3 linked regions of the Homo sapiens genome follow. The protein of the gene in region 2 binds, or shares a complex with, the protein of the main gene of each other region. Each region holds a gene or a part of one and is shown on either strand. Other genes may lie near its edges. The genes, in order: TTF2, AKAP17A and PPP1R8.

The links.
Region 1: AKAP17A (region 2) and TTF2 share a complex: the UniProt entries of both Homo sapiens proteins name them as parts of the spliceosome.
Region 3: AKAP17A (region 2) and PPP1R8 share a complex: the UniProt entries of both Homo sapiens proteins name them as parts of the spliceosome.

The regions. Positions count from the first base shown.
Region 1 is NC_000001.11:117,063,320-117,067,070, forward strand, and holds part of TTF2 (transcription termination factor 2), read left to right. Parts: intron 1-3,751. UniProt on the Homo sapiens protein: DsDNA-dependent ATPase which acts as a transcription termination factor by coupling ATP hydrolysis with removal of RNA polymerase II from the DNA template. May contribute to mitotic transcription repression. May also be involved in pre-mRNA splicing.
Region 2 is NC_000023.11:1,589,952-1,593,702, forward strand, and holds the start of AKAP17A (A-kinase anchor protein 17A), read left to right. Parts: upstream 1-1,652; 5' UTR 1,653-1,818; intron 1,819-3,492; 5' UTR 3,493-3,511; coding exon 3,512-3,751. UniProt on the Homo sapiens protein: Splice factor regulating alternative splice site selection for certain mRNA precursors. Mediates regulation of pre-mRNA splicing in a PKA-dependent manner.
Region 3 is NC_000001.11:27,833,731-27,837,481, forward strand, and holds part of PPP1R8 (nuclear inhibitor of protein phosphatase 1), read left to right. Parts: intron 1-670; exon of another isoform or gene 671-836; intron 837-3,751. UniProt on the Homo sapiens protein: Inhibitor subunit of the major nuclear protein phosphatase-1 (PP-1). It has RNA-binding activity but does not cleave RNA and may target PP-1 to RNA-associated substrates. May also be involved in pre-mRNA splicing.

The sequences.
Region 1 (3,751 bases), on a different chromosome or scaffold from region 2:
ACCTGCTCATAAAACCAAGATCCGAGTCAAAATATTACCCCAATAAGTGCCATCAGTCCCCTTCAAGTTAATTTCACCCCTCCCATCTCCACCCCTGTCAGCAATCACTGTTCTGATTTTTATCTCTTTAGATGTGTTTTGATTGTTCTTGAACGTTATATAAATGAAATCCTACTGCATGTACTCTTCTGTGTCTGACTTCTTTTACTTAACAGTATGTGAAATGTATATAATATGTATCAGTAATTCATTCATTTTTATTGTGGAGTTGAATTTCATTTATAAATGCACCACTTTGTTTGGTGTGCCTATTTGCCATCAGAAAATCTCGACGTTATCTGTTTAAATATTTTATCCTTTTTTTTGCATTGAAATTTTTATCAAGTAGTTTTAGATTCACATACAGTTGTAAGGAATAATACAGAGTTATCCCCTGTAGACTTTATCCAGTTTCCCCCAATGGTAACGTTTGCAAGGCTTAGAAATATATCACAAACAGGATATTAATATTGGTACAACCCACCAGTTTTATTGGTAAAGGTAGTTTTACTTGAACTAATTTATGTGTGTGTGTATATTCTATACAATTTTATCCTGTCGAGTCATGTATCTACCACTACAGTCAAGGTACTGAAGAGTTCCATCACAGGATCTCTCTGTTGCCCTTTCTATAACCATACCCCCTTCCCTCCCTTCTGCCCTCTTCACTCCGGCAATCAGGAATTTGCTTTTCATTTCTAAAATTTTGTCATTGCACAATTGTTACATAAGTGGAATCATAAAGTATAACTTTGGAGATCTTTGCCTGTTTTAAAATTTTTGTCTTTTTTTAAAACTGAGTTGGTAGAGTTCTTTGTAAATTCTCTATACAAGTTAGGCCAGGCATGGTGGCTCATGCCTGTAATCCCAGCACTTTGGGAGGCTGAAGTGGGCAGATCACTTGAGATTAGGAGTTTGAGACCAGCCTGGCCAACCAACATGGTGAAACCCCATCTCTACTAAATAAAAAAAAGTGAAAAAACAAAAAAAAATTAGCTGGGCCTGGTGGCACACTCCTGAAGTCTCAGCTACTCGGGAGGCTCATCATTTTTGTATGGTTTGTGCTTTTTGTCTGATCTCCAAGAAATCTTTGCCTACCCCAATATCACAAATATTTCCAAGAATTGTCTAGAAGCTTTATAGTTTTATTTTTGTTTGTTTGTTTGTTTGTTTTTGAGAGAGAGAGTTTCACTCTGTCTTCCAGGCTGGAGTGCCGTGGTACAATCTTGGCTCACTGCAACCACCATCTCCTGGGTTCAAGCAATTCTTATGCCTCAGCCTCCCAAGTAGTCCCAAGTAGCTGGGACTACAGGTGTGCACCAATAATTTTTTTGTATTTTAGTAGAAACGGAGTTTCACCATGTTGCCCAGGCTGGTCCCGAACTCCTGAGCTCAGGCAATCTACACATCTTGGCCTCCCAAGGTGCTAGGATTACAGGTGTGAGCTACTGCACCTGGCCTGTTTTTTTTTTTTCTTCTTCTTTTTTTTTTTAGTAGCTTTTTCATATAGGTCTATTATCTATATCTTAAATTACTTTTGTGTAGTATATCAGGTAGGGTAGAGGTTCATTTATTTTTGCATATGTTACCAATTGTTTTAGCATCATGTTTTGAAGATTTTCCTTTTCCCATTGAAATGCTTGGCGTCTTTGTAAAAATTCAATTGATCCAATATATGTAAGTCTATTTCTGGGGTTGCTAATCTGTTCCATTGATCCATTTGCCTATCTTTACATAATTAATCAGATAAAATAGTGTGAGTCTTCTGACTTTATTCTTTTTCAAGATTGCGTTGGCTGCTCTAGGATCTTTGCATTTCCATATAAAATGTAGAATCAGCTTTTAAAAATTTCCACAGAAAACCCTGTTGGGATTGCATTGAATCTATATAGATCAATTTGGAGAGAATTGTCAATATTGAGGCTTCCAATCCATGAATGTAGTGCATTTATTTATGACTTTAAAAATGTCAGCTGGGCGCGGCAATCCTAGCACTTTGGGAGGCCAAGGCGGGCGGATCACGAGGTCAGGAGATCGAGACCATCATGGCTAACAAGGTGAAACCCCATCTCTACTAAAAATACTAAAAATTAGCCGGGCATGGTGGAAGGCGCCTGTAGTCCCAGCTACTCAGGAGGCTGAGGCAGGAGAATGGCGTGAACCCGGAGGCAGAGCTTACAGTGAGCCGGGATCGCGCCACCGCACTCCAGCTTGGGTGACAGAGCGAGACTCTGTCTCAAAAAAAAAATGTCTCTGAGCATTGTTTAATACTTTTCATTACAGAGTTCCTATGCATCTTTTGTTAAATTTATTTCTCAGTGTTTGTGTTTTTTAGTGCTGTTGTAAATGGAATTTTTTTTAATTTTGTTTTTGGATTGTTTTCTGCTGGTATAGTAGGGCTGGTAAGCCTTTATTGCATGAAGTTATATTCTACTGATACTTAAAACCATTTACATACTACTGGAGGACCTTTACCATACAGACATACTGTGGTAGTTGTTAGGAAGCCACTGAAGGATTTTTGACCCAATTTGCATTAAAAGAAGAACTATGGAGGACAGATTAGAAAGTGAAAATAGGGCAAAGAGACCACTGAAATAATAGCTACCATTGAAAGCCCACTATATACCTTTTTTTTTTTTTTTTTTTTTTTTTTTTTGTAGAGACACGGTCTCACTGTATTACCCAGCCTGGTCTCAATCTCCTGGGCTCAAGCAATCCTCCTACCTCAGCCTCCCAAAGTACTGGGATTACAGGTGTGGGCCACTGCACCCAGCCTGTTCATTATCTTTTACCTTCATATAATTTGTTGTGATAGATTTCAATATCCGTGTTTACCAGAAAGATGGAGAAACTACCATTGAAACAGGTCAGAAAGGGAATCTGAGGACCCATGGTTATGAAGTGGCATTGCTGGGATTTAAACCCAGGTCCAACTGATTCCAGACACACCAACTTTCTCTTAAGTGAGAGGTGATGGGCCTGAATTGAAGTAGCAGCAGTGGAATTGGGTCCAAGTAGAATGAAAACTTGCTGAAAGAGCACTGATGAGATGTATTTCCTGGTAGGGCATATAAACGTGTTCCTTCCTCCATTTTTTCATCTGGAATATTGCTCACATGGCCCTAACTTCCCTGGGTTGGAGGACTTGGAGAGAGAACGTGTGTGATGGCCTCGGTCTGGTGTTTGGCACATTGTCAGTGCTCAGTAGGGAAACGGTTGCTAAGGTGGGGCTTCTGGGTAATGTGTTTACGTTAAGCAGGACAAGGAAGAAAGGTAATGTTGGTCGAGTATTGGGATGTGTGGCAAACACATACAGCTTTGGACTAATCATGTCTTTTTTTTTTTTTTTTTTTTTTTAAAAGACAGAGTCTTGCTCTGTCAACCAGGCTGGAGTACAGTGGCACAATCTCAGCTCACTGCGACCTCTGCCTCCCAGGTTCAGGTGATTCTCGTGTCTCAGCCTCCCGAGTAGCTGGGATTACAGGTGTGTGTCACGACGCCCAGCTAATTTTTGTATTTTTAGTAGACATGGGCTTTTGCCATGTTGGCCAGGCTGGTCTCAAACTCCTAGCCTCAAGTGGTCTGCCTGCCTCAGCCTCCCAGAGTACTGGGATTACAGGCATGAGCCACCTCACCTGGCCAAATTGTGTCTTATTTTCATGTGAAACCAGCTAGAAAAATGAGTGTGCAGCTCTGAAGAAAGGCCTGA
Region 2 (3,751 bases):
GATAGCTGATGTTGAGCAATGCAAGATTTCTGTTCTGATTATCTGACCCTGGATATCCAGTTTGGGGACTTGTGACATATTTGGGACGTCAGAAGCACGTACCTCTCACATAGAGCATGGCATACTTAATAAACAATAAATTATAATAAAAAATGAATAATGCATTATAAATTATCATTACTTATTTATTTATTTATTGGAGACAGAGTCTCGCTCTGTTGCCCAGGATGGAGTGCAGTGGCGCCATCTTCGCTCACTGCAACCTCTGCCTCCTGGGTTCAAGTGATTCTCGGGCCTGCCTCAGCCTCCTGAGTAGCTGGGACTATAGGCAACCACCTCCACACCCGGCTAGTTTTTTGTCTTTTTAGTAGAGACGGGGTTTCACCATGCTGGCCAGGCTGGTCTTTTTTTTGTTTTGTTTTGACATGGAGTCTCGCTCTGTCAACCAGGCTGGAGTGCAGTGGCACGGTCTCACTGCAAGCCCCACCTCCCAGGTTCACGCCATTCTCCTGCCACAGCCTCCCGAGTAGCTGGTAGCTGGGACTACAGGTGCCCACCACCACGCCCGGCTGATTATTTTTTGTATTTTAGTAAAGACGGGGTTTCATCGTGTTAGCCAGGATGGTCTCGATCTCCTGACCTCATCATCCGCACATCTCGGCCTCCCAAAGTGCTGGGATTACAGGCATGAGCCACCGGGCCCGGCCCCAGGCTGGTCTTGAACTCCTGACCTTGTGATCTGCCCGCCTTGGCCCTCCAAAGTGCTGGCATTACAGACGTGAGCCACCGCACCTGGCCTCATTTATTATTTTGTAATCACATTATAAATTGTCATTTATTATTTCATAATTACATTATAAATGATCATTTCAGAATTACATTATATATTTTCATTTATTTCATAATTACACTATAGATTATCATTTATTATTCCAAAATTACATTATAAATTATGATTATATTATACAATAGCATTTGCTTCATAATTACATTAGATTATCATTTATTTTTAAATTACATTATATTTATTTCATAATTACATTATAAATTATCTTATAATTAGAAATGATCATTTATTTCATAATTGCAATATAAATTATTATTAATTTCATAATACCATTGTAAGTTATCATTTATTATTTCATAATTACATTATGTAATGGTATGCGTTAATAATTATTAATATACAATTAATAATTATTAACCATTCAATTAATAGTTAATTAACTAGCAATTTATATGTAATTCTATAATTACGTCATAGAATATGATATCTAATTTATACATAAATTATATTATTCAAGTATATTACCCATAATTTGCAAGTATAGTATAGAATCCCGTTATAGGATCCTATTACATTTTAGAATTTTGTTATATATATTTGACTCTACAATTGGAATTTAGACCCCACACCGGCCCCCCTCCTGTTTGGCTTAAGGGCTATGACCACAGACCCTGGCCCAAGTACCTCCCCTGGTTACCCGCAGGCAGGTGGCACCATGGGGGCGGGGCGGACTCGCGCACGCGCAGTGCAAAAGGTCGGGCTCCCGGAAGTCCCTCCTCCCGGGGGCGGAGCCAGGGCAAGAAGGAGAAACCCGGTGCTGCCGCGCGGCCTCTTCCGCGAGCCCGCGCGCCGGAAGTGGAAATGCGTCATAGAGGGCGGGCGGCGACGGCGGTGGCGGCGTCGGAGGCGCCTCCGGGGGACGGTGGCGGCTCCCGGCGGTGAGGCCGCGCCTGTCCGGGGATCGTCGAGGGACGGCGGGAGCTTGGGCCAGCGGCGGCGGCGGCCTGGGACGCAGGCGGAGCCCCGCGCAGGTGAGTGCCGCCCCCGTGCCTCCCGGGCCTGGCTGCAGCCGGCGAACGCTTCGCTCCTAGGGCCGGGCCCGGGGGGCCGGGGCTTGGGAGGCGGCGCCTAGGGGCCTCGGAGGTGACGGGGCTGGGGTTGGGGGGCGTGGGGTGCCACCGGGGGGCTGGGAGCGCCTGAAACTGTACGGGGGAATCGGGGGCTGGGGAGGTCTGCGGTCGGGGTCCGGGGGTCCCTGGAAGTAGGGGTAGGGGCTGGAGCGGTTCCTGGGACTGCACCGAAGGAGCTGAGGCCTGGAGCGGTGTCGGAGGGCTGGGAGCTCGGGGGATCGGATGGGCGGGAGACTAGGAGGCCTGGGACTAGGGGACGTGGCGCTGCGGTCGCTCCTAGGTCTACAGTGGGAAGCAAGGGGCTGTCCGGGGTTTTCGGAGGCTGGGGCGGTGCTGTGTAGGTTGGGGTATTGGGGCTCATCCAGGAGGGTGGTGGGGAGCGGGGAACTGAGGAGCTGAGGGTACCGAGTGGCCAAGGGCCTGAGAATGTGTGGGGCCCTGCCAGGGGTGCCAGCGGCAGCCTGAGGCCATGCTGGGGGGCTGCGGTAGGTGGGAATACCAGGGGCAATGCCGCGTACTGGGGATTGGGCAGCCAGGTGTACCGGGGTGGTCGGAGGGCGCTGGAGGCCAGAGTGGGGAGGGTTCCTCGGTGGTGAAGTTGCTGGGGCCGCTTGGGTTCTGGGGGAGGGTTCACTGGTCTCTGTCCAGACTGGAGCCCCTCCCTGGTGCCCCACTGACCTTTTCTGGTCGCTTCTCCACCCTCCCTCCCTTCTTTCGCACCTCCCACCTCGGGCTTGGGCGAGGAGGCCGTCTCCTGGGCCTGGCAGGAAGCCTCCAGGTTGATGGGGTGGGCGGCCGGGCCGGAGGCGGTCACCTGAGATGGTTGGGTTTCTGCGAGTGAAGCTTCCTCTACTTGGACTTGGCCGTCAGGAAGTGGCTGCCCGTCAGCTCAGCAGGGAAGAGGTGGGTTAATGAAGGTGGGCGGAGAAAGAAGGCGCAGACGGGGGACTCCGGCCCCTAACTTGTGGAAAGTTCGTTGTACTTTTTGGCTTTGAGTGGGTTAAAGCTGGGATACGTTTGGCCTTCGTGGAGATTACTAGGGTTCATGGTTCTGGATTGTTGTTGCAGCCCGAGACTTCCTGTTTTATCAGGGCAAGTACAGGGCCGCCGCCCCCTCCACAAAACCTTTCCAGATGCCTGCAGCTGTGCTCTCCCTGGCCCCTTCCCTTCCCCAGTGTCTCTCTGCCCCTTCCCGTGGAGCTAGGCGTTTGTAGCGTCCCCGTTCCTACTTGACCTGTGTGAGGGGCCTGGTCGTGCTCAGCTTCCTATTCTGCAGGCCTTGGGAGCTGCTGGCTGCTGGATGTAGGGTGTCGGGCAGTGCTGACCGAGGCTTTGACACTAACCTGTTCTTTATCAGCTCGGCTCTTTCCCCTTTGGTGTACTCTTAATGATTTCAAAAAGTAAAGAACTCCGTTGAGATGGCTGTTAACAAAGTGGAAACCGGTCTCTGACACGGCAGAGAGACACTGCTGTTTCTCTTCTCCGGGTCCAGAAAGTGCCTGCTGGCTTGGCCCCTCCTCATTGGCGGGGGAGGTGGGGGGTGCTGGTGCTGACTGTCTGCGTCTTATGTTTCAGGCCCAAGGTCCCGGAGGCTATGGCAGCGGCTACCATCGTGCACGACACGTCTGAGGCCGTGGAGCTCTGCCCTGCTTACGGCTTGTACCTGAAGCCCATCACCAAGATGACCATCAGCGTGGCACTCCCGCAGCTGAAGCAGCCGGGGAAGTCCATCTCCAACTGGGAGGTGATGGAGAGGCTGAAGGGCATGGTGCAGAACCACCAGTTCTCCACGCTGCGTATTTCCAAGAGCACCATGGACTTCATCCGCTTCGAG
Region 3 (3,751 bases), on a different chromosome or scaffold from region 2:
GGTATTTAATAAAAATGTTGCAGTTCCACGGTTGCTAGATTGAAAAGCTATCTGAGATCTTTTGAAGGTTACTCTGTAAATATATTGTTGTCACTTTTGAGATGTTGTAGAGATAACCAGGTATTTTGCAAAGTATTAAGGCATGCACGAGTTTTAATGATTTCTCCTGTTATGAATACATCATGGACTCAGCCAGTCACAGAGAGCCCCTTTGTCATGGGTTCTTCTCTCTTAAAGATTTAAAACCTCAAGATTATTCAAAGAAATAATTTAGCTAAAATATCTGTAAAACCTTTTTTGCTATAGATTGTTCCACAGTTACAAAATATTTGTTGCTGAATAGCACAAAGCTTGAAGACATATAGGGATCTGTTTTATTACTAGAATTTAGCAAATCTTTAGTTTGCAACAGGAAGAAACAGACAGGGTTGCCTAGTCTTAATGATAACATCACATTCCTTTGTGGAATAATTGGTATTACATTTTCAAAACACTCTAACTTGCCAGACACTCCTCTGATCATTGGTGTCTATTAGCTGATAACGTTCTCTTTCGATGTTGTTAAGTGTGCTGAGTTGCCACAAAGTTGTCAAGTTACAATCCTTAGACATCACTGTATTCTTGAGAGGCGTAGACCTGAGATGTGCTTATTTTTAGATTTAAACTTGATCAGCACTTGATACTAACCGAGCTGTCTATATCCTAGCCTTGTGTCAAAGGCTTGTGATGTGTTGTGATAGCTGGGTTTAAGAAGTGCAATATTAAAACAAAAGCCATGAGTCTTTTAAGCCCAGTGTGTAAAGATACACTCTGAGTTATAACTCAGAGGCACAACTGGATAGCAGTACTGGCCATAGCTAGTCAAGAAGCTACGGCTTTAGTGACTGTTGAAAGCCAGTGCATTATTTCATTCACTTGGACAGAAGCAGCACATTGTTCAACATCTAACACATTTCCTTGGTTCTAAGACATACTGTTTTCTGTTAAAATTCCATACATTTTGGCCAGGTGCGGTGGCGGCTCACACCTGGCCTCCCAGCACTTTGGGAGGCCGAGGCGGGCAGATCACCTGAGGTCAGGAGTTCAAGACCAGGCTGGCCAGCATGGCAAAACCCCGTCTCTACTAAAAGTAAAAAAATTAGCCAGGTGCAGTGGCACACCCCTATAATCCCAGCTACTTGGGAGGCTGAGGCAGGAGAATCGCTTGAACCCAGGAGGCAGAGTTTGCAGTGAGTGGAGATTGCACCACTGCACTGCAGCCTAGGCAACAAAGCAAGACTCCATCTCAAAAAAAAAATTCATTCATTTTAACATTTCTGTAATTGGGGTGCCTTTAATACTGAATGTGTACATTTAATTTGGAGGCACTCTTTTTTTTTCCTCTCAAAGAAATCCCTAAATCTCTAGTATGTCTTTTGGCACCCTAGATTCATAGAAATTTAGTCATTGTTATTTTAGAACCCAAGAGCTGGTGGTCTTTCATGTTCCTTCAGCACAATCTGTGAGCACTGTGGTTAGCAAATTTAAGTTTGTGACAGCATAATCCATGTGCATATAAATATGAATGAGAAGTGCAATGAGATTCAGCCCAAATAACTATTACCTAGAGAGAACAAGTTGTTGAAATTTCTGGGCTCTCTCTTAATCCTGAAATAATGTCTTATTTTTAACTCAAGTCTTAAAAACCTTGGGTCAAAGCAGACATGAAGGTGACTGACTGAGCTGTCAGGCTGTTGTTGAATCTTGGTTCTCCATAGTAGTGTGGGCCCAGAACAAGCTCTTCCAGCAGCAGATGGGCACTGCCAGATAGGGTTTCCCAGAGGTGACCCACATATCCAAGCTAGCCTGAATTAATTGAACCTTAAGGCTGAGCTTGAAAGAAACTGGCTAAGTGATTGTTTAAGGAAAAGAGTGTGACCCACAGTACTTATTCTCTCCTTAAAATATTCCTTGCCATATGGTGCATTTTTTGATGTAAGTAGAATGAAGAAAATATATAATGTGGTTAAAACAGCTTAGACTCTGAAGCCAGACAAATCTGAATTTCTAACCCGGCCCACAAGTATCTAACTGTGTGAACTTGAGTATGTTAATTTCTTTATGCCTCAATTTTGTCATTTATAAAAATAGGAAGAGAATAGTATTACCCACCTCATAGGGTGGTTGTGAGGATGAAATGATATAATGTAAAACTCATAGCATAGTGTGTGGCATAGAAGCGCCTAGCAGTTGTTACTGTAATCAGTGCTGAAATTGTGCTTGCATGAGGTGTATCTTTTGGTTTTGTAAGGGGATAATAGCAGCCCATTGTGAGTTAAAGGACTTAGCCAGGAATGAAATATAAGCTTCTTGATTCCCAGCCGGGTACTAACTTGACTATACTCTACTCAGCTTTATGCTATATTTTCTCAGGGATTTTAGGACTATAGTGTGAAATGTGAACTAGCGTTTAATGAGACCTCATGTTTAAAGGAAAAACACAACATACCCAAATGAGAGTTATTCCTCAAGTGCTCCCACTGGATTACTAGACCACTAGCACTGGAAGAAGCTTTAGCAATAATTCATCTAGAGTCCTTCATCTATAACAGTCCAGTTTATAACCGATCTGTGGCAAAGGCTTTACTGATCCAGGATTAAAAGAAATATAAGGACAGGTATAGCAAGTTTTTTATTTTTATTTTTTTGTTTGTTTTTGTTTTCGAGATAGAGTCTTGCTCTGTCGCCCAGGCTGGAGTGCAGTGGCCGATCTCGGCTCACTGCAAGCTCTGCCTCCCGGGCTCATGCCATTCTCCTGCCTCAGCCTCCCGAGTAGCTGGGACTACAGGCACCTGCCACCACGCCCGGCTAATTTTTTTTTTGTATTTTTAGTAGAGACGGGGTTTCACTGTGTTAGCCAGGATGGTTTTGATCTCCTGACCTTGTGATCCGCCTGCCTCGGCCTCCCAAAGTGCTGGGATTACAGGTTTGAGCCACCGCACCCGGCCAGCAAGTTTTTTATAAAGCTAAATTTAGCTCAGGTCTAGCACGGTGGCTAACACCGGTAATCCCAGCACTTTGGGAGGTTGAGGCTGGCCATTCACCTGAGGTGAGGAGTTCGAGACCAGCCTGGGCAACATGGTGAAACTTGTTTGTTTTGAGACTGTCTCAAAAACAAACAAAAATACTTTGGGACTATGGCAGCATGATTAGAATAGAAATAGGTGTTTACACTTCATTCCTTTCCCAAATATACATTTGAATGTTTATTTTCTGAGAAGCAATCTTATTACAATTTTTTTCGGTTTCACTAGGCTAAAAGCAATCTTGTTACCTTATAGACATGCATTGTGCTTCTTGTTTCCTAATTGATCTAAAATTAAGATCCAACAGAACCTTTTTTCAGAAGACAGCCACTCTTCATACAATTGTTGATCTCAGGCCAGGCACGGTGGCTCACCCCTGTAATCCCAGCACTTTGGGAGTCTGAGGCGGGTGGATCATGAGGTCAGGAGATCAAGACCATCCTGGCTAACACGGTGAAACCCTGTCTCTTCTAAAAATACAAAAAATTAGCTGGGCGTGGTGGCACACGCCTGTAGTCCCAGCTACTCGGGAGGCTGAGGCAGGAGAATGGTGTGAACCCGGGAGGCAGAGCTTGTAGTGAGCCGAGATCACGCCACTGCACTCCAGCCTGGGTGACAGAGACTCGTCTCAAAAAAAAAAAAGAGTTGTTACTGTCTTGAGGGCAGGCCACTTATATCTAATAGAA